7 linked regions of the Homo sapiens genome follow. The protein of the gene in region 4 interacts with the protein of the main gene of each other region in a biochemical or structural test. Each region holds a gene or a part of one and is shown on either strand. Other genes may lie near its edges. The genes, in order: SCN5A, FAT1, ABCC6, APBA2, NCBP2L, GNG4 and JAM2.

The links.
Region 1: the proteins of APBA2 (region 4) and SCN5A interact in a test that uses a peptide from one of them, tested with the Homo sapiens proteins (one large-scale study listed by IntAct).
Region 2: the proteins of APBA2 (region 4) and FAT1 interact in a test that uses a peptide from one of them, tested with the Homo sapiens proteins (one large-scale study listed by IntAct).
Region 3: the proteins of APBA2 (region 4) and ABCC6 interact in a test that uses a peptide from one of them, tested with the Homo sapiens proteins (one large-scale study listed by IntAct).
Region 5: the proteins of APBA2 (region 4) and NCBP2L interact in a test that uses a peptide from one of them, tested with the Homo sapiens proteins (one large-scale study listed by IntAct).
Region 6: the proteins of APBA2 (region 4) and GNG4 interact in a test that uses a peptide from one of them, tested with the Homo sapiens proteins (one large-scale study listed by IntAct).
Region 7: the proteins of APBA2 (region 4) and JAM2 interact in a test that uses a peptide from one of them, tested with the Homo sapiens proteins (one large-scale study listed by IntAct).

Annotation. Positions count from the first base shown.
Region 1 is NC_000003.12:38,604,688-38,608,187, forward strand, and holds part of SCN5A (sodium channel protein type 5 subunit alpha), read right to left. Parts: coding exon 3,464-3,500; intron 2,124-3,463; coding exon 1,982-2,123; intron 1,462-1,981; coding exon 1,264-1,461; intron 222-1,263; coding exon 42-221; intron 1-41. UniProt on the Homo sapiens protein: Pore-forming subunit of Nav1.5, a voltage-gated sodium (Nav) channel that directly mediates the depolarizing phase of action potentials in excitable membranes.
Region 2 is NC_000004.12:186,710,357-186,713,856, forward strand, and holds part of FAT1 (protocadherin Fat 1 isoform 1 precursor), read right to left. Parts: intron 1-3,500.
Region 3 is NC_000016.10:16,153,995-16,157,494, reverse strand, and holds part of ABCC6 (ATP-binding cassette sub-family C member 6), read left to right. Parts: intron 1-1,640; exon of another isoform or gene 1,641-1,703; intron 1,704-2,463; coding exon 2,464-2,622; intron 2,623-2,700; coding exon 2,701-2,867; intron 2,868-3,500.
Region 4 is NC_000015.10:28,892,474-28,895,973, reverse strand, and holds part of APBA2 (amyloid-beta A4 precursor protein-binding family A member 2), read right to left. Parts: intron 455-3,500; exon of another isoform or gene 365-454; intron 1-364. UniProt on the Homo sapiens protein: Putative function in synaptic vesicle exocytosis by binding to STXBP1, an essential component of the synaptic vesicle exocytotic machinery. May modulate processing of the amyloid-beta precursor protein (APP) and hence formation of APP-beta.
Region 5 is NC_000023.11:107,787,733-107,791,232, reverse strand, and holds part of NCBP2L (nuclear cap-binding protein subunit 2-like), read right to left. Parts: intron 1-3,500.
Region 6 is NC_000001.11:235,552,285-235,555,784, forward strand, and holds part of GNG4 (guanine nucleotide-binding protein G(I)/G(S)/G(O) subunit gamma-4), read right to left. Parts: intron 1-3,500. UniProt on the Homo sapiens protein: Guanine nucleotide-binding proteins (G proteins) are involved as a modulator or transducer in various transmembrane signaling systems.
Region 7 is NC_000021.9:25,715,160-25,718,062, reverse strand, and holds the end of JAM2 (junctional adhesion molecule B isoform 1 precursor), read right to left. Parts: 3' UTR 501-2,903; downstream 1-500. UniProt on the Homo sapiens protein: Junctional adhesion protein that mediates heterotypic cell-cell interactions with its cognate receptor JAM3 to regulate different cellular processes. Plays a role in homing and mobilization of hematopoietic stem and progenitor cells within the bone marrow.

The sequences.
Region 1 (3,500 bases), on a different chromosome or scaffold from region 4:
CAGACCCACCCTGGAAAAGCTAGAACCACAGCTGGGATTACCATTGCTCTGGGACCATCTTCTGAGTCAGACTTGGGGAGCCTGTCCTCCCCACACTCCTCAGTTCCTGAAGACATCCGTTTTCTCCTCTTGCTTCTTCTCTCATGGCTGTTTACTGGGGCCAAAGGGGACATCTCCAAGGAGCTACGGGACACGGTATCCACACCCCTGATGGTGAGGGCCTGGAAAAGAGTGGAGGAACGGACGTTTCCATCATTGAGACTTTGTGCAGCCTCAGGCTCAGGCAGGCCAGGCAACTCTCAGTGACTTGGTTTTCCCTATCAGTAAGTGGACTTGCACACCTACCCCAAAATGAGGACATCATGGAGATAAACTCAGACAGACCCAGAATGTTTTGGGAAAGATCAAGATCCAGGAAGGAAGATAGGAGTGGCTAAAGTGGGCAGCCTCGGAAGACTGGAGTGTGTGGAACAGGTGGGAGGTGGGTGTAGATGAGCAGAGAAGTGGCAGAACCAGAAGGCAGAGGCTCTTCTAGAAGGTTTAGCTGGCCAAAAGTGTACTGGAATATGTGGCATGGGGTAGTGAGAAGAACAAGTGGATGCTTCTAATAGCTCTGGCTTCTAATAGCTCACTCTATAGCCAGCCTCCAGGCTCCACCATGTGGGGGACTAGGGATGGCTAGGGCAGCATTGTCAGTGCTTATTTTCTGAGACAGCTCTGTTCTCTGACATTGGACCTTCTTCACTACCCCACCAGAAGGCATCCCTTGACCAGAATAAACTATGTGCATGTATACATGCATCTCTTATCCAGCATGCACTATGCTCACAGGGACCATCTTTACCCAGGAGCTACCACCCAGCAGGCACCATTTTTACCCAGCTGGCGCCACCTTCACCTGGAGGACATGACGACCATAGGGAACAAGTTTACTCAGCACAAGCCACACTCATAGGACCCACCTTACCCAGCAGATGTCACTTTTACCTAGTAGGCTCCTCACTAACAGGCACGTCTTAACCCAGCAGGTTCCAAATTTTTACTCAGCGATACCACATTCACAGAAAATATCTTTACCCAGCAGGCACTGCACCATGCCCACAGGCACTGGCTTTACCCAGCATGCACCATGCCCACAGGCACCAGCTTTACCCAGCATGTACCACGCCCACAGGCACCAGCTTTAACTGGCATATACCCCACCTATAGGCACCTACAGTCAGGTGAGGGCTTAGAGGCTCCTCGGTGGCACTGCTCACCCACCTCGTGTTCTTTCTTGAGCATTTCCATGGCCTCCTGGAAGCGCTTTTCCTTCTCCTCGGTCTCAGCGATGGTGGCTTGGTTTTGCTCCTCATAGGCCATTGCGACCACGGCCAGGATCAGGTTCACCAGGTAGAAGGACCCCAGGAAGATGACAAGCATGAAGAAGATCATGTAGATCTTCCCTGCGGACCTGAGGGTCTGGGGGAGCAAGGGGGCAGAGGTCACCCTCACTGGGGCCCCTTCTGGGTTATGGCATTTCCAAGTCACCTAGTCTAGTTGTGCCAGGGGTTCAAATAGCCATAGCCTAGGGAGGAGGGTAGAGATGTCCCACCTATAGAGAGGGACATGTACTGACCTGCAGAGGAGAATGACCTGCACACAGCGGGACTGTGTCCCACCTGAGGAGGGAGGCAGAATGTTCCACCCAACTCAGGGCATGCTGTGCCCACAGAGGGAGAATATTCCATCCTACAGGGAGAAAGAGTGTCCCACTCACAGAGCAGAGAGCATCCTATACAAAGGGACTGGTACTTCATCACCAGCAAAAAGAAAGTTTCTTTGCTGCTGATCCCTTCTCCCTCAGAAGCAAGGGTCCTTGTCCCCTGTCCCCTCCAAAGCTCCCACCAGTGGGGAGGCTGCTGGGGCCACTTCTGGCTAGTCACTTGTGTAGCCTGGACCCTGAGCCCACACTTGCTGTCCCTTGTGGGCACACACACACCTGCTGATAGAGGCGCTCCCAGCAGTCCTGCGTCATCAGGCGGAAGAGTGCAAGAAAGGCCCAGGCAAAGGAATCGAAGCTGGTGTAGCCGTGGTCGGGGTTCTCGCCTGCCTTTAGGCACCGGTAGCCCTCCGGACATGTCCTGCAGCCACACACAGAGACTTTGTTCCATGCCGTCAGGGGTCTGCTGCCCTTGAGACCCTTGCTGGGCTGGACTTGTCTCCCTGGGCAACCCAGTTTATGCCCCACAGCTCAGTGAAGCTGAGCTTCACAAACCTAGTGCCACGCTGCTGGATCCTGCCTCCGTGACTTTGTTCGTGCTGTGCCTCCCACTGGGACACTATCTTCCTCTTTACTCTTCTTATATGTACTCTGCTAGGCCTAAATCAAGCTCCCTTCTGCCCATACGTCACACCATCCCCAGCTACTATCAAGTTGCCTCTCCTCACAGAGAGGAAGCACACAAGCCTGGCTCATGTCTCTTCCTCTGCCCATCTACCCCATGAGGAGTTGAGTACAGCATGGGCATGGGGGAGAGCAGGGTTGGGGAGAGCAGTGAGCCTCGGCTGAGCTGAACAGGATGAGCCCAGGGCAAAGGCAGGGCCATGGGGTTGAGAAATGATTCTGGAGGGGATGGGCTGGGGCTTGGCCATGTCAGGAGCTCATTTGCACAACTGTGCACACAGCCACTGGTTCACTGAGGCAGATTCACAGTTCACAGAGCTGGAGGTGGTAGCCTCTCTCCAAAGAGGAAATGCTGGTCTGGAGTCATGTGTGCATGTATGTGTGTATGACACACACACACACACACACACACACACACACACACGAGGGACTTAGCAAGTGGATGGATGCATCCAAGGGACCTCTGTGTCTTGCTAATGCCCCAAGACCCTCCAGACAATCTCTTTGGTGACAGGAAGGAGGCAACAAACTTGGTACTTCTCCTTTGAGGTGGCCCTCTGTGACCCCCTTCTCCAACACTCCATGGCACTGTCACAGTGATCCAGGCCCTGGTGTGCACAGGGCCCTGGAAGCTGCACATGGCTACTGGGCATCTCAAGGAAAGTCCAGGCTGCTGGAGAAACCACATTTGCTCCAAGGGACAGATCAGCAGCAACGGAGGGAAGACTGGAGCTGGAGGGAGCAGTTCTGGGGAGCTTCTGGAAGGGAATGGAGCTGGGGGTGGGCTGGTTGGGGGGCTGTAGAAGGCATCCCAGGCTATCCCTCAGTCCCAGCCCACCTTCAGGGCTCCGTTAGCTCTCCCTGCAGCTCTGTCCCTGACCTTTCTCCAGAAGCTGTCTCCTCTGTGCTGGGGGCAAGGTGGGGAAGCTGGGGAAGGGTCCTGGCAGGTAAGGGAGACAAAAGAAGGCCTCGCTGTCCCTGGGGTCAGGGCATAAATAGAAAATACAGTCAGTTGAGAAAACACCAGGAGACTCCCCTGGCAGGACAAGGAGACCCGGGGTGGTAGGTGCCACATACCCAGCGTCAGAGCTGTTCCCACACAGTAACACATCAG
Region 2 (3,500 bases), on a different chromosome or scaffold from region 4:
ATAAGAACAGCTTGTAATCTCATTTCAAAATGTATCCTGAAATTATATTATTTCTGTATAAGAATGGTTAAGTTCACTCCCTACATAATGTAAGGGTTTATTGTCTCATTTCGCTCTATGTAACTACTTAAAAGTATTAAAATAATTATATCAAGTATAATACTTATCAGCAACATAAGCCCCAAAGAAAGGCAATTTACAAAAGAAAAACCAGAATTCAGCAGCCTGATGTCAAACAGCATTTTTCCTCTCTAAGTCAGTGAAGCAAACTTTACCAACTATATCAATGTTTTATCACCACTGCTGTCAACAACCAGTTGTTCACAGAATGTCTCCTATCTTCAGGGCATCGAACAACCTGTCACCCTGGGCCCCTCCATGAGAAGATGACACACACACACAAAAGCTAAATCTTCTAAGCTAACACACGTCAAGGGTCAAATCAGTCTATTAATACATGGTGGCAGACTCTGCAGGACAGTCCCTGGGTGACTGGCGGAGAAAAGAGAGAAACTGAAGAAATGAAGAAAACGTTGCCTTTAACAATGACAAATGGGAAGGTGGGCGAAGTCCACTGGGCTGAGGTCTGGCCAGGGAAGCAGGACAGTTATTTTCAGATCAACTGTTCCCCTTTGCCAACAAATTCATCTTGTAAATCAACACAGCTTCACAAAGGACAGCACTGTCATCTTGCAAAGTGACTCTCAAATTAATATTCACAAAATGTGAATGCTACCAGAGGTAAATGAAGAGCAAACTGGAGGGTGGGTTTGACAGCCCAGTTGAAATTGGTACGACAACATTAATTTATAGTATCTTAACTTAGCTACTGCCAACTCTGCCCCATAAGTCATTGCCTTAGGGGGAAAAAAAGACCTGATGTGCTTAAAGCAATTAAAGCTTAATTGATATTGAACCACGTTCAAGTTGGCCACCCTAACTTGTTCTTTAGCTATGATGCCTTCTCCTCTCCAGATAAAGTCAGAAATTAGACAGATTTTTGGCTTCTAGGAGAACAATTATCATTTAAACAAAATAAGAAAACAATTTTCTCCCAAAACTATCTCTTTAAGTATCTCCATTTAGTCAACAGTTCTAATACTCAGGGAAATTTGAATATTATAAAATAATCTTGTAATTTTATCAAAACAAATAAAAAGTTCAACCTACAGGTATGGAGGACCTTATCAGACAGAACCTTGCATGGTGTTAAGGAATAAAAGACAAAGATCCCAATCCCAAGGGATTTACAAACTAGAAATAAAAATACATATAAAGAGGCTGGTCACGGTGGCTCACACCTGTAATCCCAGAACTTTGGGAGGCCAATGCAGCCGGATCCCTTGAGCTCAGGAGTTCGAGACCAGCCTGGCCAAAACATGGTGAAACCCCATCTCTACTAAAAATACAAAAATTAGCAGGATATGGTGGAGCAAGCCTGTAATCTCAGTTACTCCAGAGGCTGAGGCAGGAGAATCACTTGAACCCGGGAGGCAGAGATTGCAGTGAGCCGAGATCGCGCCACTGCACTCCAGCCTGGGCAACAGAGCTAGACTCTGTCTCAAAAACAAAAAAACAAAACCAGAAACACTTGGATGATGTTTAGCAAGCAGTGTCTTTTGTTTTAGGAGTCACATTATGTTTTAGGAGACATTTTTACCATCATCCATTGTACAACAAAATATTATACCAGGATTCTATTGCAAGTACTAGAAGTATTTTTGCTTAATTCTACGTATAAAGTTATCATGCAGCCATTAAAAGATAGCACTCTGTATGTTGACATATGTCTAGCTATATAAACTGGAAAAACGAAGCTGATCCTATTTATGTTTATTTAAAAGAGAGGAGAAGGGGGGTAGATACAATGTACCCACGGATATACTTTAAAATGGACAGAAAAGTCTAGGCAGACAAGCAACTGTTAACAGTGGTAACTTCTGGAGAACCGGTAGAGAAACAGGTAGCTGAGGGAATGATTACTGTGGCATTTTTCTCTACTGTGGTTTTTTTTTAGCATGAGTATGTGTTGTCTTTATCATCCACTCACCCCTTTCATTAATTATTTAATTCCTTTTACATAGGTTTAATGAGCATCTACTATGTATCAGGTGCAGTTCTAGACGCTGGGGATTCAAAAGTGAACCAAATTACCAACAAGTCCTGATGGAAGATACATTTCCTGGCCAGACACAGACAGACAAGTAAACAGAGTATATCCGATGCTGATAATTAAGTGCTAAGGAGAAAACTAAAGCAGGGCAAAGAGAGACCAGGGTCAGGAACCTGAAGGAAAAGAGGGAACCCTAAATCCAAAGGGTCAGGGCTTACACTAGTGACATGCTGGGCAACTCTTAGATTCTTTGGGGAAACGTAGAGTGTTCAATATGATTCCTGGTCCCCACCAGCATGAAGCCTGTGGCATCCCCCTCATCACCCAGCTGTGATGACTAAAAATACCTCTATCTCGAGACATTGCCAAACACCCTCTAGGGCAGAAAGTCACACCCCGCAGAGAAGCACTAGATTAGGGAAGCCAGAAAGAGACCACGTGGCTGGAGCACAGCGGTTGAGGGACAGCGGTAAGGCCGGGGCACATCCTGGGAGAGAACCTATCATGAAGGGGGTTCTTTTTAAAAATAAACCTTATTTTAGAATGCTTTTAGACTTACAGAAAAGTTGCAAAGAGAGCTTCCCCTACTGTTAACATCTCACTTTAGTACATTATACTAGATACAACTAACAAACCAGTACTGACACATCATCAACTACAGTCCATACTTCACTCAAATTTGCTCATTTTACCCAAGGCCTTCTCTCCATCCTAGAATCCCTTCCAAGACACCACCTTACATTTAGCTGTCATGTCTCCTAAGGCTCCTCTGGAATGTACGTTTCTCAGATTTTCCTTGCTTTTAATGATCTGGACAGTTTCCAGAAGTACTAGTCAGGTATTTTGTAGGATGTCCCTCAACTGGAATCTGACGTTTCTCTCCTGATTAGATTGGGGTTCTGTTTTGGGGAGAAAAGCCACAGAGGTAGAGTCGTTTCCACCACACCGTAGCAAGCGGGTAAAATCAACACGATTTATCGATGTTGACGCTGCTCCTGACCACGTGACTGAGGTAGTATCTGCCAGGTTTCCTCACAGTCAGGTTACTTTCACCCCTCCCTGTACTGTATTCTTGGTAAGGAAGTCACTGCATGTAGCCCATTCTTAAGAGACAGAGAGTTTCGCTACTCAAAATATTTATAATTCTTCTAGAAACTGATTTGTCTATCTTCCTCCATTTATTTATTCAATTTTTTTTCTTTTTTAGACAGAGTCTCGCTCTCTCACCCAGGCTGGAGTGCAGTGGCGCGATCACGGCTCACTGAAGCTTTGAGCTTTCCGGGCCCCCGTCTCAGCCTCCTGAGTAGCTGGGACTATAGGTGCGTCTGTAGATTTAGACTGACAGAATTTTACATACTCAGGAACCACCAGCACGCCTGGCTCATGT
Region 3 (3,500 bases), on a different chromosome or scaffold from region 4:
GCTTCCATCTGGTGACTTCCTCATCCACCTTGGTGTCCCCAGATGAGGAAGCAACTCCGTGACTTCCTTCTTCCTTTAACATTAACCCAGCACCTAATATGTGCTGGGCAGTGTGTTAAATGCTCCAGGTACATTTTCCAGTTTGCACAAATGGGATATTTGCTTTCAGCTGGGAGACATTGGGAAAAGCACTTCATAGCTCAGTCTCAGTTTTCCCATCTGTAAATTGGGACTGGTAATACTGATCTCTGAGTTGTTGTGAAGTTTGAGTTAATACATAGAACATGCTTAGCTCATAGAAAGTGCTCCAGAAATGTTTACTAATGCTTTTATTATTTGCGTTTTCACTCTCACAACAACCCCTAAGTGAGGTGCTAGTACTATCCCATTTTACAGATGCCTCATCAGGCCCCTTCACTGAATCCCTTTCCTCCCTCCCTCTGAACCTACAGAGGCTTCCTCCCTGTCCTCTCCTTGTCCCCTAAAAAGCAGTGGATCCTGTCTCACCAGCTCCAATCTGCTCTCCTGTGATTTTTTTTTTTTTTTTTTTTTGAGACAGAGTCTCACTCTGTTGCCCAGGCTGGAGTGCAGTGGTGTGACCTTAGATCACTGCAACCTCCGCCTCCCAGATTCAAGTGATTCTCCTGCCTCAGCCTCCTGAGTAGCTGGGATTACAGGCACCTGCCACCACACCCGGCTAATTTTTGTATTTTTAGTAGAGACAGGGTTTCACCATGTTGGCCAGGCTGCTATGAAACTTCTGACCTCAATCACCCCCCTCGGCCTCCCAAAGTGCTGGGACTACAGGCATGACCCACCATGCCCAGCCATCCTGTGACCTTTATCAGCATGAATGACACTGCATGTCATTCCCCTGCTCAAAACCTTCTACTAGTTCCAGCTTCCCTTGGGGTAAAGTGTGAATTCCTGAGCTTGGCATTCAAGGCTCTACCCAACCCAGGCCCTGCCAACCTCCCCCTCTCATTCATTGCTCTGCCAGGGCTTAGCCAACATTGTGGAGCAGCTGCCTCTCGGCCAGGGGGGCACATGGTGCTGTGAGCTCCATGAGCTTCTAGTTTTGGAAACCCACTTGGTGTGGTTTACCTGGAGTGTTCCCCTTCCTTGAACTCCTATTGATCCTTCAAGCTTCCATGCAAGTATCCCTTCCTCCATGAGGTCTTCTCTTATTACCTCTGTCAAATCCCAGGCAGCATGAGCAGCACTGCCTTGCTTCCCTTAATTGCCAGAGGTCCAGACCTTGATAATAAACAGCATTGTTGGCTGGGTGCTGTGGCTTATACCTGTAATCCCAGCACTTTAGGAGGCCAAGGTGGGCAGATCACTTGAGGCCAGAAGTTTGAGACCAGCCTGGCCAACATGGTGAAATCCCGTGTCTACTAAAAATACAAAAATTAGCCGAGCATGGTGACAGGCACCTGCAGTCCCAGCTACTAGGGAGGCTGAGGCAGGAGAATTGCTTGAACCTGGGAGGTGGAGGTTGCAGTGAGCTGAGATCGCACCACTGCACTCCAGCCTGGGCAATAGAGCAAGACTTTATCTCAAAAATAAATAAATAAATAAATAAATAAAGCATTGTTCATCACACTGTATTACATTTACTCAATTGCACTGTTTCCTAGACCGGATGATGGGCACACTGGAGCAAGGACTCTTTAATTTCTATACTTCCGGTGCCTAAACAGGTACTTGGCATACAGTGGGGTGACCCACATGTTTCCATCATTAATTAAACAAATAATGTTGAACCCACACCATGTGTCAGACACTGAGGATGCAATAGTAGCAAGAGAGATAAGGATGGAGGGTGGATAACAGCATGGGAGATGGATAACAGAATGGACACATGGATAAGATGGAGGATGAATGGAAGGATGGATGAGGGAAGGATGGACTGGATGGATGGATGGGAGAAAATAAATGAATGAAAGGATTAGTGAATTGATGGATGAATAGGGAAGAAGAAACGAGAGACGGATAGACAGATGAATGGATGGATGAATGGAATGGGGTGGAAGAGAGATGGAGGGATGGGATTGAGGATGGATGATGGATGGATGGATGGCAGGATGGGGTGGAAAAAAGGATAAGGGATGGATGGACGGACAGACAGATGGATGGGATGGGGTAGAAAAAAGGATGAGAGATGATGGAGAGGTGTAAATAGAAGGATGAGGAAAGATGGAGGAACTAAAGGAAGGGTGGGGAGAAAGATGGGAGAGAGATATCAGGATAAGGGAAAGATAGAGAAGAACACAGATGGAAGACTGGATGGATTGATGGGTGGATATATAGAAAGGTAGACAGATGGAAAGAGAGATGGAAGGTAGACCTTTACACAATGAGGGATGGATAGACAGATCTCGGGTACAGCAGAAAGATCTCCCCAATAAATGCCCACAAACCCTCTGGTCAGAGCAGGCCTTTCCTCCCAACCCCGGGCAGGTGGGCATCGTTGGCAGGACCGGGGCAGGGAAGTCCTCCCTGGCCAGTGGGCTGCTGCGGCTCCAGGAGGCAGCTGAGGGTGGGATCTGGATCGACGGGGTCCCCATTGCCCACGTGGGGCTGCACACACTGCGCTCCAGGATCAGCATCATCCCCCAGGTGAGGCTGGTGGAGGGGGTGGGCAAAGATGGGAGGCATGGTGGGACCCGGCTCTGACCCACCGCCCCTCCCCGCCAGGACCCCATCCTGTTCCCTGGCTCTCTGCGGATGAACCTCGACCTGCTGCAGGAGCACTCGGACGAGGCTATCTGGGCAGCCCTGGAGACGGTGCAGCTCAAAGCCTTGGTGGCCAGCCTGCCCGGCCAGCTGCAGTACAAGTGTGCTGACCGAGGCGAGGACCTGAGGTATGGTCGTCCCACCATGGCTGGGACCTGCAGGTGGGAGAGGAGGGGATGGCCATGCCCTCCCCAAGGGCCTTCAGGAAATGCCTCCCCCGATAGGATTATCACTCTGTTACATTAATAACCACATGTCTCTTATCTGCAATTCCAAGCTCTGACACAGTCTCTGAATACCAAGGTTTTCCCCCCTAAATTAGCAGTTAGTCTTCTATATTTACTTGGTGGCAAAACCCAACCTCAACTGACACAGGGCTACTGATAGCCTTTATTGCTCTTGCTCAGTATTTATTTTGCTATGAAAATATTGTTTGATATCGGGTGGTAACCTCACCACTCACTGGGACTATAATATAGGATTTTTTTTTTTGGTAAATGTCAAGTGTGGACTGGGCACAGTGGCTCATGCCTGTAATCCCAGCACTTCAGGAGGCTGAGAGAGGAGGATTGCTTGAGCCCAGGAGTTCGAGACTAGTCTGGGCAACATAGCAAGACCCTATCTCTGTGGACAACAGTATTAGCCAGGTATGGTGGCATGCACCTGTAGTCCTAGTTACTTGGGAGGCTGAGGTGGGAAGAACGCTTGAGCCAGGGAGGCGAAGGTTGCAGTGAGCCGATATTGCACCACTGCACTCCATC
Region 4 (3,500 bases):
ATCCGACTAACTTTTCTATTTTTTTGTAGAGATGGGGTCTCCTTACGTTACCCAGGCTGGTCTCAAACTCCTGGGCTTAAGCGAGCCTCCCTCCTCGGCTTCCCAAAGTGCTGGGATTACCTCATGAACCACCATGCCCAGCCTTCAAATCAGAATTCTAAGGAGCCTAACAAGCAGCAGGCCTTTCCAGTTATGGCGCATGAAAGTAACAAAGGCAGCCTCAGCCAGCATCCAGCGCAGTCCCAGCAGACAGAGATAATGAGGTGGACATGGGCCTCATGGGAGGGAATACTGCCCCCCACCCCCATGCCATGCCAGTGAGAAAAACAGACTGACTGCAGCCCCAAAACATACAGCAACTTACCCACGAAACAGGAACCTCTGATGCCTGACATTATCAGGTAAGAGATATTTCTGGCCCAGCAGCCCCCAGAGGATGAACAGCTCCCTCCGCCTGAAAGGGGAAGAGGGTCCAAGCTGCAGGCGCCCTGGCACATCGAGGCCATGGACAGGAGGCACCCGAATGTCTCCCCAGAGTACCCCTGCTGCAGAGGCCTCTGGAGCCCATCATCCTGCGGCACTGCTGCTCCCGCTCTCTTTCCCAAGCCCTGTGCAGTCCCCTCTCCTGACGCAGGACCAGAAAGCTACTGGGAGCCCCGTAAGGACAGCCTGCGTGCCCAGCCAGGCTGAGGCCAGCCACCGGAGGCCAGCAGCAGGGAGGCCACACCTGCGCTGTCACCCACACCCCTGCACACTGGAGCTGCCTGGGGACCCAGGCCTCCCTGTGTGCCGAGGGTAAGTTGGCGGAGCTGCACAGGTTAAGGCTGGGTGAGCCAGTTAATAATGTGATGAACGGTTTGTCATGGATTTTGTCGTTCTTTTAGAAAAACAGGGGCAAGTTAATCTAGAAATCCTGTAAATCTCTAAAGGGTAAAATTAAACGTCCTCACTAGCAAGGCTGGGACTTGGCAGCAGCAGCCGCCTCCTACAGAACATAGGGAGCGGGCTCTGGAGCCCCCCAATGACGCAGGAGCTGCCTTGGCCAGACACCTGCCCCCGCCACCCTCCTGTGTTCTTACTGAGCCCCTCCCCACCCCATGCAGTGCATCTTCCACCAGCACCTCCCCGCACCCTCCCCTCGCCTCTAGATGCACCCCTGAACATGCCCCTAACGGCGTCCTTCTCCCACGCTCTGACCTGTCTGCTAGGGAAGCCAGCTGCAGAAATCACTCTCCTAGAGTTCGCTTGGTAAACTATGCGTTGTTATTGGCCCATCTGCTTCGCTCCCAACCCACAGCAAGGACTCTCTAGGGCCACCAAGCTCCTAATCGTCAGCAACTGCCCTCCAACCCCCATCTCCAGCTCTAACCTACACAAACCACATAGTCCCCCCTGTGCCCAGGGTGCCCCATTCCAGGCTGGCCCTTTGCCTGGAGGGCTCTTCTGGCCTGGGCTCTGAAGGGGTAAACCCACCCACTCTTATAGGATGGGGTCCATGATCCACCCCAACCTACCATGGGGCTCTCACATCTGCCAGACTGTGCCTCTCTAGGAGGGCCTTGGACCCAGAGCCAGAATGGGGCTCTGATGCCACTGCACATTCTCCAGCAGCCCCCTCCATGCCCTCCCTCCTGATCCCACCCAGCTCTAAACTGGGAACAAGAAAGCTGGAATACAGTAGCTGCTCAGAAAATACCTACTGAGTAGATGGGTGGATGGATGGACAGAGCTCCAGGCAAAGGGACTCGGGGGTAAGAAAAGTGAAGGGTACCTGCCCCCGGTTCTACCACTGCAGAGTCCTTGAGTGTCAAAGGACTGAGAGGTGAATGACAGGCAAGGTGAGACCTACCATGTTAGTGTCCCGCACCCCTTTGTTTCCACTATTAGATTAAGCCACCCTATGTGACAGATAAAAGGAGTAACACGTACGGAGTTAGACCAGGGTTGCCAAAGTGAGGGGTGGGAATGCTGCCAGTCCAGGGGTCCCCCACGGCAGCTCCCCAGACGAAGTCAAGGCAAGTTGGAGATGAGGCTGCCTCTAGGTGTATCAAATCAACTGAAGCAGCACCAGTCGTCAGTGCTGATTAAGCACAGGCACGCCTGTGATCAAGAAGAAAACCATTACTTAATAAAATGCAATTAATTTAGAAGCTGAAAACTGCGAAAGCCCAAGGGAGAGACATAATCAGGAGTTCTTGGTCTGGAGGGGCTTCTGCTCTCAAAGCTTCCAACCCAACACAGCACAAAGATGTCTTCCCCAACAACCGCACATCCAACCTGCAAAACGATGACACGCTCCTCTCCAAGTACCTGAACCTTAGGACTCAAAGGGTAGAGAAAGTTCACAGGCAGAATCTTCACAATACATGCACAAAAGAAAGGCACTTCTACTAGGAGCTGTGGGTCAGGAAAACCTCGACTTCACCCAATGCCATTCCCGAGACAATCAGCCATTAATGTGACCCACTCAGTCCTGCCTCAGGGGCTCAGAATCTAGCAGTCAGGCCAGATGGGAAGTGCAGGGACCTGCGGCCAAAATCGGTCCATTCATCACCCAGCTGACGGCTTTCACAAGTACTAGCCAGAATCAGTAAGAGGCTGGAGGTAGTGCCAGGTGTCTGAAACCCAGCAGGCAAGTTGGTAAAACACACACACACCCTAAACCTGGTGACTGCACTGACTGAGTGCTTTACTGTAGCAGAACAGTTGCACACATCTCATCTCCTCCATCCATAGTAACTCAGTGGCTGGTGAGGAATGGGACACAGATCTCCACGTGCCCTTCTCAGGATGAGTCAAGACAAACTCTGAGCAGTGACGCTCTACAGCTGGCTCACACGTGGAGGCAAAGCCTGGCTTCCCAGAGCTTCCAGTTCCTAACACATGCCTGGCCCCACTGCACCACACCCGTGACAGCTGCCACCAGCTCCGGATAATCCAGACAGATGCTAGAGCACATGGCTCACTTATTACAGCAAAAGACTGAGAAACAGAAACTATGTTTTATTTGCACAAGGCACACACTTGCTTCCAGAGAGACCTGAGAAATCCATCATCCCTAAATGCACGCATTCACTCAATTAGTGGTTTTCCTGTTTTTGCAACAATGGATTTTTCCAAGACAGTTGACAATTAAACCAACGGTGGGAAACCATAAACTGTACTTTACTAAATTAACAATGCATACAACAGTTCGGAGGAATTCATATTTACAGCTGCCCTGCTGGAGAGTCAATTCCAGGAATGTAAAACCAACCAAATAAAAAAAATTTTATATATATATACACATACATACACACATATATACGTACACATACACACACACACACACACATATACACACAGTTATGCATCGCTTAATGGCAGGGATGTGTTCTGAGAAATTTGTCATTAGGCAATTTCATCATTGTGCAAACATCATAGAGCATACTTTATACAAACCTACTCCACACCTTGGCTATAGGTTACAGGCCATTGCTCCCAGGCTACACACCTGGGCA
Region 5 (3,500 bases), on a different chromosome or scaffold from region 4:
ACTTTCAAGCTCAACACGTGGCAAAAGGACAGATTGATGGATATTGGGAAAGATAACTGGCATGGGAGCTTTGTTTTATAATGTGGGGCATCCTCTACTTTATTCTTCTCTTCACTTGTTTCTCCATTCATTCAATCAACATTTATAGAGCACTATGTTAAATTCTGGGGAAACAATAAAAAGTAAGATGCAGCCCTTTCCCTCAGGTAGCTCACAATCTGGGGAGATGGACAACTTAACATACAAATTGCAATGCAATGTAATTATTCTAATCACAGGAGCACACAGTAGGCCCAGAGGTAGCACAAAGAAGGGAGTACAAAACTACAGAGGAGGATGAGGAGGGGAAAACAACTTTCTAAAGGACCTGATTCCTGAGCTTTTTTAACAAAAAATTTACGTAGTATTTACTTTTTTGAATAGTGAATTCAGATTTGTGTTACAAAATGCAGAATGTACAAATAGGTGGAAAAAGGAAGTCTTCTTCCCACTCCTGTGCCCCAGCCACCCAATCATTGTCACTAGTTTCTTGTGTATCTACCCAGACATAGTCTGAGTCCAATTTTGAAAGCTGAATAAAGATTTGACTGGAAGACCAAGGGGTCATTCTAGGCAGAGAGAACAGTGTGTATGAAGGCATGAAGGCGTGATGGGGGGTGTTCAGTCTGACGTTATTTGGGCAAAGAAAATAAGGAAAAGATGATAGGAGATAAGATTGGAAGGGTAGGCAAGGCCAGATTGTGAGGGGCCTTGTAAGCCTTGTGGAGCAGCTTGGACTGTACCAGTAAGCAGTGGGAACCATGATAGGGCTTCAAGCAGAGGAGTGATGTGATCTGATTTGCATTAGAGAAAATGCATTCTATCACAGTGTGAAGGATAGACTAAGGGGGAGCAGGCCAAGAGGCAGGAAGACCAGTTACGGAGCTATTTGAATGGTTAAAAAACAAAAAGATTATGGAAAGCCTGGACTAATAATATGCTGTAGTAACATAAAGGAAACACATCTCAGATAGATACTTAGAAGACAGACTGAACAGGTCTTGGTGACTGGTTGAATGAGAAATTCAGGATGACTACCGAGTTTCAGCACTGTGTAGATAGAGGTCAACTGTGTAGATAGAGGTCTGAGTCACCAAAATGGTGTCAGTTGGGCAGACAGAGGAGGAAGGGCAGATTGGAATAAAAAAGATGAATTTGGAACATACTGAGTTTGGTCTTGAGGTACCTGTAGGATGTGCCATATTACACGTGTCAAGTATTAACTAGTATATGGGTTTGGAGCTCTCAAGAGAGGTCTGTGTCTGGGACCACAGACACAGATTTGGGGCTCAATAGGATGGTAGATAAAACCATGGGTATGGATGAGATGATCTAGGGGAAAGGTGAGGAATGAAAAAACCTGGGAAAGACTGGCATTTAAGGGGTGGCAGACGAAAAGTCCACAAAACAGCATAAGAAGGAGTAATCAGAGAGGAATGAGGACAGTCAGAAGATGTGCAACATCACCAAAGCCAAGGAGTAGGTCATGAGAGTCATGAGGACAGAAGTAGGGTGAGAGCAATCAATTATGTTAAATACATCAGAGAGAGGTCCAGTAAAATAAAGACTTAACATTGTTCATTAGATTTGGCAATTAGGATGTCATTGGTTTACTTAAAAGAGAAATAACAGTGGTGTTCTGGGAACAGAAAAGCCATAGTGGGAGCTGAGTTTTTAACAGGAGGTGAGGAAATGGAGAGTGTCTACACTTTAGAAAAGATTCCATAACAATAAAAGAAGAGAAATAGGGCAAATGCCAGTTGGGGATAGAGGCGAAGGAAAATTTGTTTGTTTCTTTTTTTAGAGTGAAAGTTGATCATGCCTGAAGGTTGATGGGAAGCAGCCAGTAAGTAGAGAAGGAGTTGTTGAAGACACAGATGAGAGGAGGGATAACTGATGAAGTAAGTCCTCATGGAGGTGAGAAAGAATGGGCTCCAAAGCATACGTAGAGAAATTAGCCTTGAACTGGAGAAGCTATGTGTATTTCTGCAAGCCCAAAAAAAAAAAAAAAAAAAAAAAGAGGTTAGGACATGTAGGGACACAACTATGTGGCAGGGTGGGGTTAGGACAGGAAAATGAGTGTTAGCATCCAACGACCTAGATTTTCATAATGGAATAAGAGGTGAGATCATCTGCTGAGAATAAAGTGGATCATTGAAAATAGTTGGTGAAGCAGAGTGGAGGTAAAATGATTGAAAGGATGAAGCTTATAAATGGGTCATCTATGAGGACATTAAGATCACTCAGGATGGTGGCTAGAGTTGGGGTGGAAAGGAAGACTATCAGTGAGGAGGTGAAGTCCTCAATAGGTGAGAGAACTAAAGTACAGCAGATGATAGTAGGAAGGATTGGAAGAGGGTGGCTGTACCATCTCCAGGCCCCATGGGGTAAGAAAGAACAGAGAACCTCTACCACTGAAAACAGAGGTTTCTAGTTGATGTTAGGTACCTGACCCAAAGTAGGTACTCACTAGATGTGAAGAAGTGAGTTACTCTTTTTTAAGCTGGTATGATCATGAAATTGCATCAGACCATCACAAGGAGTGGCAGTCCCAATGTGCTCCATGCTGGTCAAACTACACAGCGAGCACTACGTTCCATTTCGAGGTACTGTATTTTAAAGTGAACATTTACAAATCATAGTGCATCTGATGTTTATTGAATGAATGAAGGGTCAAGAAGTAACTGAGGACTGATTAGAAATTGGGGATGTTTAGTCTAGCAAAGAGATGGTTAAAGGAGGATATGACAAATGTCTTGAAATATTGAAAGTGCTATTTCTGCTCCATATGATAAAAGTAAGATTAATGGATAGAAGTTAAAAACAGAAGATTACAATTCTTTTTTAGCAGAGTTTTTAATTCATCCAGTGATAGAATGTGAACTTACCTAATCTATTCATGTGGAGGCTGCAATGAACACCTACCTGCTAAAGGTGTTAGAAGGGTCACCCCCAAGGTTAACATCCCCAAAGGTTAAAGAGAAGATAGAAAAGCAATCCAGTTGCCAGGGACCACAGATCACCAAGTTGATCTGTAAACACTGTGAGAGAATATTTCCTACCTAAAAAGTAGAGCTTGGTTGGAGTGGAAAGCTTTCCTTGACTCTTGCTACTGGAGAAAATTAGTCAGAGAGTCTAAAAATAGAAGAAAAACATGAAGAATGGCTCAAAATGATCAGTCAAAATCCTAAGAGGACGGAGGAGAGGAGGTGGCAAAATAAAGTAAATTATCTTCCAGGAAACAAACTTCACTGGGCTTTTGGAGTTGGCAGGACTCTGCAAAGAATCTTTTCAATGGTTGCCTTAAACTAATGCTGGGATTGTTTCAACTATGTGAAAGGAACAAGGATCTGGACTCTTTAAAAAGCCAGGCTACTTTCTGCTCCAGATGAAGGCAGTAGCTCTAAGAAAGGAAATTAGAAAGCGCTGGGACAGTAGTGTTACTACATGCCTTACCTTTA
Region 6 (3,500 bases), on a different chromosome or scaffold from region 4:
AGTGAGTCCAGGGAAGAGGTGTCCACGTACAGAGGGGACAAGCCCTAGGGTAGGCTGTATTGTGTGCACGGCCTACAACATGGTCATGCCCAGGCTGGAGGGAGGGTTTGTGCAGATCTAGGAGACTGGTTCGAAGCGGGCCTCCAAGAAGGGGAGGCTGCCCTCGCATGGCAGGCCAGCATGGAGACAGGACTGAGGGCTGGCAGGAGGCCCAGACAGCCTTGATATATTCTCGAGTAGGTGAGGAGTGGAGGTTCCAGGACAGTAGTCTCACAATGACTTTGCTAAACCGTTTCTGGAAGACTAAAGCAGAAGGCAGCCCCTGGCCAAGCCAGTGTGATCATATTTATTATCATTATTAGTTGTTTTATTGCAATCCACTCTTGTGACCAACACAGAGAGACACTTCATCCTCCTCAACAGAACTTGTATTTAGCTATATTTTATAAGCACACGTTTTATTTTTATTCATTTTTCATTTTTATTTCTTTTTTTGAGGCAGAGTCTCGCTCTGTTGCCCAGGCTAGAGTGTGGTGGCGTGATCTCCGCTCACTGCAACCTCCATCTCCTGGGTTCAAGTGATGCTCCTGCCTCAGTCTCCCAAGTAGCTGAGATTACAGGCACTCACCATGCCCAGCTAATTTTTGTATTTTTAGTAGAGATGGGGTTTCACTATGTTGGCCAGGCTGGTCTCAAACTCCTGACCTCAGGTGATCTGCCCACCTCGGCTTCCCAAAGTGCTGGGATTACAGGCATGAGCCACCGTGCCCAGCCAGCACACATGTTTTAACTTGGAGTGGCCACTTCCCTGCGGAGAGAGGTGCTCCTGACCAGAAAGTTCTTTCCATTCCATTTCTTTCCAGGCTTATCTGAAGCCTGCTGGCGCATGGCAGTTGTGCATCAAACTGTCCCCAAGCTCAAGGCCAGAGGAAGAGCAGGTTGGGAGAGGGCGGGGTGCGGACAAGCATTTGCTAAGAGGGAGAGGCAGTTACCAGCTTATTTTGTTCATGGTCTGTGTCATGTGCTTGGCAGATAAATGGCCTGTGCATTAACTCATCCTGCCAATTAGGCTGTTCTGCCTGCGAGTATTTATTAGCGGATTACAGGCAGGGGTAAATACATAGCAGTCAAATGAAATCCTTTTAGTACATTCAATGTCTAAATCTTCCCCAGAATGATAAAAATGTTCCACAGATGAAGAAAAAAAATGTTTAGAAGCCTCCAGCTACACAGGCCATACACATTCCCTTCTGGGTTTTAAAAATTGGCTCATCTTTCAGCATTTTACAGAGATTCTTCTGATTTTCAGACCTAACCGCTTTAGCAATGGCTAGAAATAATTCCAGCAGAGATATACAATGAATCAACTAAACACATCACTCAAATAAATCAACTTGAAGTTTAGCAGATGAGTTAGTCTAAATCCTGACAAAACCTACATTTGTTAAGAATGTGGCATGGAGAAATGAGTTCCGGTGAACATCAGGCTTCTAGATCTACCCCCGCCCGTAAGCTAGCTGTGTGACCTTGGGTAAGCAGCTCAACCTTTCTGAGCTTCACTTCCCTCATTTGTAAAATTCAGGAGCGTTGGAGAGCTCTAAGGTCCCAATTTACTCTAAGACGTCTATGATTCTACCTTTAATAGCATGGTCAGTATTTAAGATCCTAAAAACGTGTATGTTGAGTTGAATAGGAGTGTTTGAAGTTTGCAGTGGGTTACAGGACGCCCATATAGGAATTTCCCAGATGGGTGAGGCTCAGGGGAAAACTGAGCCTGTGGGGGGCCTGTGAAGCCATCACAAGGAGCAGGAGCACAGGCTTAAGGAAATGGACTCTGAGGCCCACAGGGCTGCGATGGACACACAAGAGAATGGAATCACATGGTGAGTGCTGCAACTCAAAGCCGGTGGACTTGGGAGATTGAGCCCTCCCTTGCTGCCACCTTCTAAGGAAAGCCAAGTGCCCTCCCCAACTGCTGGAGTGATGACCTCCTTAGTTTCCACTCCTGGCTTCTCACCATGCCCAGAGATGCAGAAGCTGCTGAGGTCTGGGGTCTCCCTCATGGCCACCATGTTAGGACAGCCACTAAATTCATCCATTGACCCCTCTGGCAACCCCTGGGCAGTGGTCTTCACTGCTGCCTGGGCAGCACACACAAGGGCTGCAGTGTTGGAACAACCACATTCCTCCTCTAGGAGCCACTGTCCTCTTGGGTTTGCTAAGTCTAGGCCCCTGACTCCAGTGAGCTCTTCTGGGAGTTCCGTTTAAGAATGGCTCGGCTGGACGCAGTGGCTCACACCTGTAATCCCAGCACTTTGGGAGGCCAAGGCGGGTGGATCGCCTGAGGTCAGGAGTTCAAGACCAGCCTGGCCAACATGGTGAAACCCCGTCTCTACAAAAAATACAAAAAATTAGCCAGGCGTGGTGGCGGGTGCCTGTAATCCCAGCTACTCAGGAGGCTGAGGCAGGAGAATCGCTTGAACTCGGGAGTTGGAAGTTGCAATGAGCTGAGATTGTGCCACTGCACTCCAGTCTGGGCAACAAGAGTGAAACTCCATCTCAAAAAAAAAAAAAAAAAAAAAGAACGTCTCGTCTGACTATCATGCCCTCTCCAGTTTTCTAGTTTTCACTTTTCCCATCTACTTCATTTTTTTTGGACATGCTCCAGTTTCATCTGAATTCTCTATAATCCTCGTTATGTCATTCAGAAAGGAAGTATTCACTATCTACCCTTTAGCTAATTCAGAGGATGCAAGAGAAAGAATAAGGCAACAGTTTTGCCCTCTAGAAGATCTCACTGTGATCTCAAACATGATGAAGTCACTATAATAATCCATGTGTGCTGAAATGTCACAAAAGAACACTTGCACGCCACTGTGGATCCATGATGAGAGGCCAGGAGACGGGGCATCTGACAACCTGTCCAGTCCCAGACAGTAGAGGACACCTTGGTGAATCTGCCCCCTTTCTTCAGAGGGCAATCACTGGACTTCTGGGCCCAGAAACACAATTTCCTGGCACACTCAGAATAGATCATCTCTTGTGGCTGACCCATATTAAACAAGCTCAGGAGGCAGCTGGATAAAACCATAATACAAATAGAAGCTAACATTTACATTTACTGAGTGCTTCTCAGGTGCCAGCACTATGCTACATGCATCAGATGTATTATGTCATTTAATTCTTCTTATACGTACGACTCTAGCCTGGGCAACATAACAAGACTCTACCATAAAATGAAAAAATTAGCCAGGCATGATAGTGCACACCGGCAGTCCCAGCTACTTGGGAGGCTGAGGCAGGGACATCGCTTGAGTCCGGGAGTTCAAGGCTGCAGTGAGCTGTGATCGCACCACTGCACACCAGCCTGGGTGGCAGAGCAAGACCCTGTCTCTAAAAAAAAAAAAAAAAAGTAGAATTCCTTATTTATAATTGACAAATAAAAATGGAATATATTTATGGTGTACAACATGATGTTTTGATACGTGTATACATTATAG
Region 7 (2,903 bases), on a different chromosome or scaffold from region 4:
CCCATCTCAACAATAACAGCAAAGAATTTAAAAGGAAGTCAGCCTGGGGGTAGAGAAAAACATGGTGTGTGAAACATCCTGGATCAGACTGATCTGGGTCCCCACAGACCCTGATTCCTCACTCCTCAGCTCCATGAACTTGACAAGTCAGTAACTCTTGTTTCCTCATCTGCAAAATGATGACATTACCCACTTTATAGTATCGCTGAGATGAATGAGATTTTCTACATCCTCACCCCCATCCATCCCCACCTCTGACATATATAAAGTGTTCAATAAATAGTTGTTGCTTTTTATTTTCAGAGCATTTTTCTCAGCATTTGAGAAGTTGGCAGCCATCCAGAGATGATGACATTCTAATCTTAAGCAGCTAACCAGCAGCTAGCCTTGTAGCTACAGAAGGTAAGAGGGTGTAGTTTCCTGGGTTTTATGAATAACAATAGGTGGATGACTCTTTCCCTGCACTGTTATATGGGGCTAAAAAGTTTAACAAGTTCAGCTATTTTTATTAGTGTAGACTTTAATCGAACAAAGCCACCTGTGGAAAAAGGAAGTTCTTTGCAAAGTTGTATTGAAAAGCAATCAATTGGTCCAGACTTAGGTCAAACCTCCAACTAAAAATAAATTAAATCTAGTTACAACAGCAACAATAATTAAAACAAAACAAAGCTTGCTAATAAGATTTTAAAGCCCTAATCTTTACACAACACAATTCACTGCAGGAAAATAAAGTCAAAATGCTGTAAGAATTACAATGGGATTTTACCAGTTGTTAGTGTTCAAGTTCCTCAAGTAAACACAAATGCAAATACAAGTCTGGACACCAGTGACCCACAGATACATATATATACTTTTAATAGGAAATTAGTGCTCAATACTCTGCCCTTTGTGTGGGGGAAAACATTCTTTTATACAAGGATTTTTACCTAGCTATTACAATAGTTTAAGGTAATGTACAATATATATTTGACACAGAGAGTGTTATTAGATGTTCGCACTGCATAAAATGAATCCTCTAGCCTTTGATGTCTTAAAAAGAAGTTTTACAACTATTAGTGAAGCTAAGGCACTACATATTTTCCTTCCACAATATGGATTTGTGTCATTTAAACTGAAGAAGTTGATCTTGTGTGATGACAGGTATGTCTGAAGAGGCGTCTTTCAGAGTCATCTATCCTCTTGGCATGCCAATGCAAGAGGAAAGCATTCCTCAAACCAAAGAAATCTTCCAACCAAAACATAGGTAACATTTAGCCTGATTTCTTACAAAAGCTTGTAGACAGGTGTTTTTTTCTGTACTTCACCACCATGAGTTGGGAATCTATGCCTGTGGGCCAAATCTTGTCTGTGCCTGCTGTTTTTGTAAATAAAGTCTTATTGGAACACAGACATGACTACTTGCTTGTTTTGTCTGTGGCTGCCTTTGTGCTACAATGGCAGAGTCAAGTAGTTGTTAACAGGGACCTTATGACTTAAAATATCTACTTTCTGGCTCTTTACAGAAAATGTTTGCCGATCCCTGACTCGTGGTGAAAATTTTATTTTGGGGGCAGAGCCATGTTACAGAAGCCCGACCTCCAGGAAGGGATCTGGTGAGAGACATAGCATGTCATAGACAAGTCAAAGGGGGAGCATCTTCCCGGTGGCCTGGTGTCCAGGCACATGCTAGGCACTCAGTGGGTGCTTAATCCATTTGTTCGGTGAATCCTGGGGATTTGCTTCGCCAATTGGGTAGAAAGAGCAGACTCTTTTGAAAGAAGATTAACCTGCCCAGTGCAGTGGCTCATGCCTATAATCCCAGCACTTTGGGAGGCTGATGGGGGTGGATCATTTGAGGTCAGAGGTTTGAGACCAGCCTGGCCAACATGGTGAAACCCTTCTCTACTAAAATACAAAAATTAGCCAGGTGTGGTGGTACACGCCTATAATCTCAGCTACTTGGGAGGCTGAGGCAGGAGAAGTGCTTGAATCTGGGAGGCGGAGGGGAGGCGGAGGTTGCAGTGAGCCAAGATTGTGCCACTGTACTCCAGCCTGGGCGACAGAGTGAGACTCCGTCTCAAAAAAAAAAAAAAAAAAAGAAAGAAGATTAACCATCATGTTCATAGTTGTCAAAGGTAGCAAGTGACCTTTTCATCCACATTTGCCCAGAAGAATAGGACATGCCCTAGCCATATTTTGTTTTTAATATCAATTCAGTAATTAAAAGAAGTTACAAATGATATGAATTTTTAACATAGTCTAATTGCTCTGGTAAACGGATCATTGGAATTTTCACATTGTAATAGTAGCTGGAAGCTTTTGTGGTTCATCGGTTGAGAAACCCACATTAGATCCACTTTTCGTTTGAGCCATTGCTCATGTGCCCACTGTGTTTCAAGAGGGGTACCAGATGCAGGGAGTCATACTGAGCTTTTTCGTCTCATTTTCCTGGTAGACTATTACTTCTTCCCTCCACATCCCTCCTTGTCCAAAAGCAGAATTGTCAACCCCTGACTAAGGGACTTGGCCCGGAATGTCACTGCACAATTTTTAGAGACAGAAAGATGTGAAGTCACCACTCCTGCAGGGAAAGGTATCTGCAAACTTGTGTAGGCTCCAGTGGTGAGTTCTGATGTCAAAGTCACTGATCCTCTTCAAAGAAATCTTACAAGAAGGAAGCAGTGGCAAGCAGCAGTAGGGGTGAAATAAGCCACTTGGGTTTGTGTTTGACCATCTAAATTACGTTTAATGAAGAAATCAGTGACACACACCAGGCAAATCCTGTGGTGCACACCTGTGGGCTCCAGCCATTAGGCATTTCTTTTGATGTTGCTTTTAGTTCCCAGGAATGGAAGTAAACACAAAGTGCAAATCCTTGGGCATAAGACCCATCCCGCTTCCTCCTTTCTGTGGGTGTGTTAGTG